Linked DNA regions of Homo sapiens. The protein of the gene in region 2 purifies or fractionates together with the protein of the main gene of each other region. This does not show direct contact. Each region holds a gene or a part of one and is shown on either strand. Other genes may lie near its edges.

The links.
Region 1: the proteins of TTPAL (region 2) and PTPN9 purify together in Homo sapiens (affinity purification with mass spectrometry; one large-scale study listed by BioGRID and IntAct). This does not show direct contact.

What each region holds. Positions count from the first base shown.
Region 1 is NC_000015.10:75,502,744-75,506,552, reverse strand, and holds part of PTPN9 (tyrosine-protein phosphatase non-receptor type 9), read left to right. Parts: intron 1-549; coding exon 550-878; intron 879-3,513; exon of another isoform or gene 3,514-3,550; intron 3,551-3,809. UniProt on the Homo sapiens protein: Protein-tyrosine phosphatase that could participate in the transfer of hydrophobic ligands or in functions of the Golgi apparatus.
Region 2 is NC_000020.11:44,474,522-44,478,791, forward strand, and holds the start of TTPAL (alpha-tocopherol transfer protein-like), read left to right. Parts: upstream 1-1,352; 5' UTR 1,353-1,470; exon of another isoform or gene 1,471-4,126; intron 4,127-4,270. UniProt on the Homo sapiens protein: May act as a protein that binds a hydrophobic ligand.

The DNA.
Region 1 (3,809 bases), on a different chromosome or scaffold from region 2:
GGGTGAAAAAGTGAGACCCTGTCTCAAAAAAAAAGTGTTATCTCACATTTTTCCTGGGCTACCCTGCCTCTGGGTGTCTTGCTTTCATAGAATCCTATCTTTGTGAACAGTTATACCAAGCTGAGTAAAATACAAGCTAACAGGCCTTAGAATTGGTTGTCTGAGTATGGGGTTGACAAAAATAACTACTACCTATGCATTCTTAGTGGCCAAAAAAAGAGTACCAGCATGCAGCGATGCTGGGAAGCCTTGTTAATAATATAAAGCTTTTGTTCACTACATCGTCCTTTCAGAAGATGTATAACAGTGTCCCTAATTCCAGGAGTGAATTTTATATACATTCTGGGAGTTCACACTTTTATCTGGCAAATTCATAGGACTTAAATCTCAGGCAGATGAAATGTAGTCTACTACTTTTACAAGTATACCTTGTATTTCAAGAAAATCTTATCCCATCCTCCAAACCTGATATAAATACATTTATTCTTTGTCACTCTATATGCCTTTCCCTCCTCCCACATACTCACATGGTTCTTTCTAACCTTCCAGATTCAAATATTAAAGACATCTGAGGTCACGCAGCATCTGCCCAGGGAGTGTCTTCCAGAAAACCTGGGTGGGTACGTCAAAATTGATCTCGCCACTTGGAATTTCCAGTTCCTACCCCAGGTGAACGGCCACCCAGATCCCTTCGATGAGATCATCCTGTTCTCCCTCCCTCCTGCCTTAGACTGGGACTCAGTACATGTTCCAGGTCCCCATGCTATGACCATCCAAGAGTTGGTGGACTATGTTAATGCCAGGCAAAAGCAAGGAATCTATGAGGAATATGAAGACATTCGTCGTGAGAACCCTGTTGGCACTTTCCACTGTTCCATGTAAGTAGAAAAAGTTTGGGCCAGCAGCTGGTTACCAGGATGCTTCTGGTAGGCTCTGGCAACAGCTCCTTCCACCCCTCACTTGCTTAGCAGAGACCCTTCCTTATGTTAGGGAACATCACTCTCACATAAATGATGGTTTCTCGCATGCAGAAAGAGGTACTTTCTGCTTTGGTGCTTCTTTTTTTTTTTCTTTTTTTTTTAAATTTTTATTTTTTTTATTGATCATTCTTGGGTGTTTCTCGCAGAGGGGGATTTGGCAGGGTCATAGGACAATAGTGGAGGGAAGGTTGGCAGATAAACAAGTGAACAAAGGTCTCTGGTTTTCCTAGGCAGAGGACCCTGCGGCCTTCCGCAGTGTTTGTGTCCCTGGGTACTTGAGATTAGGGAGTGGTGATGATTCTTAACGAGCATGCTGCCTTCAAGCATCTGTTTAACAAAGCACATCTTGCACCGCCCTTAATCCATTTAACCCTGAGTGGACACAGCACATGTTTCAGAGAGCACAGGGTTGGGGGTAAGGTCACCGATCAACAGGATCCCAAGGCAGAAGAATTTATCTTAGTACAGAACAAAATGAAAAGTCTCCCATGTCTACTTTCTACACAGACACGGCAACCATCCGATTTCTCAATCTTTTCCCCACCTTTCCCCCCTTTCTATTCCACAAAACCGCCATTGTCATCCTGGCCCGTTCTCAATGAGCTGTTGGGTACACCTCCCAGACGAGGTGGTGGCTGGGCAGAGGGGCTCCTCACTTCCTAGTAGGGGTGGCTGGGCAGAGGTGCCCCTCACCTCCCGGACGGGGTGGCTGGCCAGACCCCCCCACCTCCCTCCCGGACGGGGCGGCTGGCCAGGCGGGGGGCTGACCCCCCCACCTCCCTCCCGGACGGGGCGGCTGGCCGGGCAGAGGGGCTCCTCACTTCCCAGTAGGGGCGGCCGGGCAGAGGCGCCCCTCACCTCCCGGGCGGGGGGCTGACCCCCCCACCTCCCTCCCGGACAGGGCGGCTGGCCGGGCGGGGGGCTGACCCCCCCACCTCCCTCCCAGACGGGGCGGCTGGCCGGGCAGAGGGGCTCCTCACTTCCCAGTAGGGGCGGCAGGGCAGAGGCGCCCCTCACCTCCTGGACGGGGCGGCTGGCTGGGCGGGGGGCTGACCCCCCCCACCTCCCTCCCGGACGTGGGGCTGACCCCTCCACCTCCCTCCCGGACCGGGCGGCTGGCCGGGCGGGGGGCTGATCCCCCCACCTCCCTCCCGGACGGGTCGGCTGGCCGGGCGGGGGGCTGAGCCCCCCACCTCCCTCCCGGACGGGGTGGCTGGCCCGGCAGAGGGGCTCCTCACTTCCCAGTAGGGGCGGCTGGGCAGAGGCGCCCCTCACCTCCCGGACGGGGCGGCTGGCCGGGCAGGGGGCTGACCTCACCTCCCTCCCGGACGGGGCGGCTGGCCGGGCGGGGGGCTGACCCCCCCGACCTCCCTCCCGGACATGGGGCTGACCCCCCCACCTCCCTCCCGGACGGGGCGGCTGTCCGGGCGGGGGGCTGACCTCCCCACCTCCCTCCCGGACGGGGCGGCTGTCCGGGCGGGGTGCTGATCCCCCCACCTCCCTCCCGGACGGGTCGGCTGGCCGGGCGGGGGGCTGAGCCCCCCACCTCCCTCCCGGACGGGGCGGCTGGCCCGGCAGAGGGGCTCCTCACTTCCCAGTAGGGGCGGCTGGGCAGAGGCGCCCCTCACCTCCCGGACGGGGCGGCTGGCCGGGCGGGGGGCTGACCCCACCTCCCTCCCGGACGGGGCGGCTGGCCGGGCGGAGGGCTGACCCCCCCTCACCTCCCTCCCGGACGGGGCGGCTGGCCGGGCGGGGGGCTGACCCCCCCACCTCCCTCCCGGACGGGGGGCTGACCCCCCCCCCACCTCCCTCCCGGATGGGGCGGCTGGCCGGGTTGGGGGCTGACTCCCCCACCTCCCTCCCGGACGGGGTGGCTGGCCAGGCAGAGGGGCTCCTCACTTCCCAGTAGGGGCGGCTGGGCAGAGGCGCCCCTCACCTCCCGGACGGGGCGGCTGGCCGGGCGGGGGGCTGACCCCCCCACCTCCCTCCCGGACGGAGCGGCTGGCCGGGCGGGGGGCTGACCCCCCCACCTCCCTCCCGGACGGGGCGGCTGCCGGGCGGAGACGCTCCTCACTTCCCAGACGGGGTGGCTGCCGGGCAGAGGGACTCCTCACTTCTCAGACGGGGCGGCTGCCGGGCGGAGGGGCTCCTCACTTCTCAGATGGGGCGGATGCTGGGCGGAGGGTCTCCTCACTTCTCAGACGGGGCGGCTGGGCAGAGACGCTCCTCACCTCCCAGACGGGGTCGCGACCGGGCAGAGGAGCTCCTCACATCCCAGACGGGGCAGCGGGGCAGAGGCGCTCCCCACATCTCAGACGATGGGCGGCCGGGCAGAGATGCTCCTCACTTCCCAGATGGGATGGCTGCCGGGAAGAGGCGCTCCTCACTTCCTAGATGGGATGGCGGCCGGGCAGAGACGCTCCTCACTTTCCAGACTGGGCAGCCAGGCAGAGGGGCTCCTCACGTCCCAGACGATGGGCGGCCAGGCAGAGACGCTCCTCACTTCCCAGACGGGGTGGTGGCCGGGCAGAGGCTGCAATCTCGGCACTTTGGGAGGCCAAGGCAGGCGGCTGGGAGATGGAGGTTGTAGTGAGCTGAGATCACGCCACTGCACTCCAGCCTGGGCACCATTGGGTGCTTCTTGCTAACATCCTATGCTCTGAAATTTCTGAAGGTCTTTGGTACCAACAGGATAACCCTGTTGGACATATTTTTGGATATTTTTCTGAAATGCAAGTTTTTTTTAAAAAAAGTAGGTTCAAAATAGGCTACTCTCTATTCCAGTACTCAGTGTGAGTGCTGGTCTGTTCATTTGGGCAGTTTCTCCCC
Region 2 (4,270 bases):
AAGCCAGAGGTTGAGGTGATTTGAAGAAGGGGCCATAAGCTAAGGAATGCAGGTGGCCTCTACAAACTGTAAAAGGAAAGGAACTGATGCTTCCTCCAAATCCCCAAAAGAATGCAGCCTTGCCAACACCTTGATTTTAGACTTTTGACCTAGAGAACTGCAAGAGAATATATCTGTGTTGTTTCAATCCATGAAGTTTGCAGTAATTCCTTGTAACAGTAACAGGAAAATAATACATAGATTTAGCAAACAAAACAAAATCCAGGATGCCCAGTAGTCATATTTGAATTTCCTATAAACAACAATTTTTAAAGTATAAATGTGTCCCAAATGTTGCATAGGACACACTTATCTGTGTGTATGTGTGTGTGTGTTTGGAAAGGAACATGCTTAAATGTTTATCTGAAATTCAAACTGTAGTGAATGTTATATATTTTGTCTGTCAATCTTAGAAGTGATGAAACTGAGAGCAGGAGTCAAAACTCATGATTCCCAGGTCGCCTCCATACTGCTGCCCCCTGCCCCTCAATCTGGCAGAAACTGCCACGTTCTTGTGGCCCTCATGGGTCACTTCCCATCTTCTTGGGACTCCTCTTGCCCCTGGGGTAGGAAAATGAAAAGACTGTTTAAGGTCGTTTCTTTAGGCTCAGAGTTCTCCTGGACCACCAGAGGTTCTGCCTCAGAGGGACCTAGGAGATTTGCCTCAAAGTTGCAGTTGCACAAAATACTTGCGGGCGGATCTTAATGGACTGGGGTGGGAGTTAGTAAAGCCTTTGTCTGGAGGGAACGTAATGAACCCCAAAGCAGGAAAAAAGTAATTATTGAATCAGGCTCCAGAGCAAGAATCAGGTTTCAGGTAAGGAAACGGAAGCACAAGAAGGAATGGGGACTTGCTCCAGGTCACTCAGTTAATGACAGACAGATGTCCCCTGGTTTGGAGTCTCCCTTTTTGGAGCAGCTAGTCCTGATAGCAGCCATAGTGGGGGGAAGTCTAGAATGCTAATCCTGAGGTCCGGGTTTGAAGCCCTTTACTGCCTTGATTGCCAGTTTCCCTTTCCTGAAATAGGGGAATTGCATAAATATGAGGAGTTAATGAGATCATGGATGTTAAACAACAGGTACATGTTAGCATGTTCTTGGAAAATGGCAGCTTCTTTCCTTCCTTCTCTGAGCCTCAGTTTCCCCATCTATAAGCCGGGTTTGACAAGCGGCTGGTGCCCCAGCTCCTCCCAGCCACTCCAGGTCCGCAGCTCGGAGCTCCGGCAGCCAGGTGGGGACTGAACACCAACGCCGCGGGGAGGCGTCGCACATGCGCGCTCCTAGGCGGAGCCCCGCCTCCCACGCCCTGGATCGTCACTTCCGGCGCGAGAGGCCGGGCAGGCCGGGCAGGGAGTGCGGGTCGGTTCTGCGTGCGCTGCCGGACGAGGCTCCCGCCGCCGATTGACCCGCGCTCCGCCCGTAGTCGGGCCGGTGAGTGCCCGCGAGCCCATCCGTGTGCCCTGGGAGCTGAGGAGAGGGACCCCTGAGAGGGAAGGATAACCGGAAGTGGGGACCAGAGGAGCGAGAGACCCCAGGAAATGGGGACACCTGGGGAGGGGGTGACAGCCGGAAGTGGGGGCCTCGGAAGGTTGTCCACGGGATATGGGGTCTCGGGGGCTCTAGGAGAGATGGCTTCCTGACCTCTCCTTGTTGAGAGGAAGGGGTGGAAAGGAAAGTGATGCTCCAGAAAGGATGGGCTCCAGGTGGGGGAGATCTTTGGCTTCACCGTTACCAATGGTGTCTGCATCTCACTCATATGTCCGCCTGTCAGCTCATTCACCAGCCTGTGACTGAGTCCTGCTGAGCGCTCGGCACTGCTGAGTCCCTGGAGAGTCAACATGAAGCTCCAGGTGGAGGGTACAGATTAGAAGCCCAGGGTGGGGCTAGACGCATCCTTGCTCTGCCTCACCGGGTGTGCCCCCTTGGGCGAATCGCTTAACCTATATCCTCCGCTGATGTGTACAGACCACTGCCATGTGCCCGGCACTGGGGGTGGCAGTGGACATGGCAGACAAGCCCTCTGCCCTCGTGGAACTTAGATTCTAGGGGACAGTCCTTTTTGTCCTCCTTTGTAAAATGGCAACAGTAATAGCGCTCTCACCAAATAACGTGAAGATTAAATGAGGAAATGGGTAAAGGGCTTAGCAATGCTTGATACATGGTAAAATGCTCAAGTATGCATTCTCTTCATTCCACTATAATGTAAGCTTTATTAGGCAAGGAATTGTATTGTTTGCGTCTGTGTTCCCAGTGCCTGTGAGCACAGTGCCTGACATATATGGTAGGTGATCGGTAATTATTTGATAAATGAGTGCGTGGTGAAACTGACTCTAGATAAATGCCCATAGCATTGGACTGTAATTTCTAAAAAAGAAATAGGAACCCAGTTCTGTGGAAAACTGGAGGGAATCACCCTCAGGGAGTTTGGGAAGGATTCACTGAGGTGGTGACATGGCAGCTGAGCCTGAGCTGTCAAGTTAGGAACAAATTAGAAGAGGAAATTCCAGGCAGAGTGTATCAGAAGTGCACGAGTTATTCCAAGGATGATGGGTTATTAGTTTGTTTTGACTGGCATTTAATGTGCATCAAGGTGGGGTGCGATGGAAAATGAGGCTGGAGAGGGGCTTTGAGGTGAGGCTTGTACCTTGTGAACACTGATGTTTGATGGGATTGCAGGCATCTCTTGGTTACTTCCATAGAAACAAAGCCATAGTTGTTCCATTCCTCACTTAGCATACCTGTGCCAACCAGACTAAAGTCATTCAACAAATATTTATGGAGTGCAGATTATGTGTCTAACACCATGTTAGGCGCTGGGTTTCAGGTGATGAACAAGACAAACTTGGATGTTGCTCACAAATTGCCAACAGACAATTGCAACAGGGTGGGAGAAGTGCGGGGGAGGCACCTAACCTGGCTGGGGGTCAGTGAAGGCTACCTACTCCAGGCCACCAGCATCTCTCAGCTGGATTATTGCAATAGCCTCTAAATGGTCTGCTTCAGTCCTCACTCCCTTAGAGTCCATTCTCAAGACAGCAGATTGGTCCTTTTAAAATATATTTTTATTTATTTATCTATCTATCTATTTATTTATTTATTTATTTATTTATCTGAGATAGCGTCTCGCCCTGTCGCCCAAGCTGGAGTGCAGTGACATGATCTCGGCTCACTGCAACCTCCGCTTCCTGGTTTCAAGCGATTATCCTGCTTCAACCTCCCAAGTAGCTGGCACTACAGGCCCGCACCACCATGCCTGGCTAATTTTTGTATTTTTAGTAGAGACAGGGTTTCACCATGTTGGCCAGGCTGGTCTCGAACTCCTGACCTCAGGTGATCCATCCACTTCAGCCTACCAAAGTGTTGGGATTACAGGCATAAGCCACCACACACAGCCCAAGAAAAAATTTAAAAATTAGCCAGGCGTGGTGTGTGCCTATAGTCCCAGCTACCTGGGAGGCTGAGGCAGGAGGATTGCTTGAACTTAGGAGTTCGAGGTTGCAGAGAGCTATGATTGCGCCACTGCACTTCAGCCTGGGTGACAGAGCAAGACCCTGTCTCTCTCTTAAACAAAAAAGTGCATGAGTTCAGGTCCTCTAAGAAGCAGACACTAGGATGAGGTTAGACGTGCTAGAAATGTAGAGGCAACCCTTGCGAAGGACAGCACCTGGGAAGGGAGCTGGAGAAGTCAGGAAGAGCCACTGGCAGTGATGCAGATCAGCTCCTGTGAAGGAGGTTTGGGCAGCAAGTCTCTGACTGCAGGGCAGTCCCAACAAAGGTTTGGCCAGGCCCTCAAGCAAACGCTGCCTGTTAGAGGAGTCCTATGTCTCACTAAATCATTGGCTAGGAGCAGTGAGGCCACAGAAGGGCTGTGGAAAGTTCTGGCTTCCCCTGGATAGTGGATCTAGAGGGACAGCCACTGGGGCCCTTTATCAATTACGTTTTCCCAGCAGATCTGACCGGCACATATTCCCGACTGCCACGATAAGTTACATGGGTGTGTAGTAAAAAATTCAAACAGTATAGTAAAAATCCTCTTTCTCATCTTAAATCTTCACTTGTCCAGTTCTGTTCCAAGAGATAACCATTGGTAAGTTTCTTATATCTCTTTCCAGAAGTTTTGTGTGCATTCACAAGTGTATGTGTATAGTTTAAAAACGTGATTTTCTGTACACTATTCTGCAACTTGCTTTTTTAATATGTCAATTCATAAAGATCTGCCTACTTTTCGCTT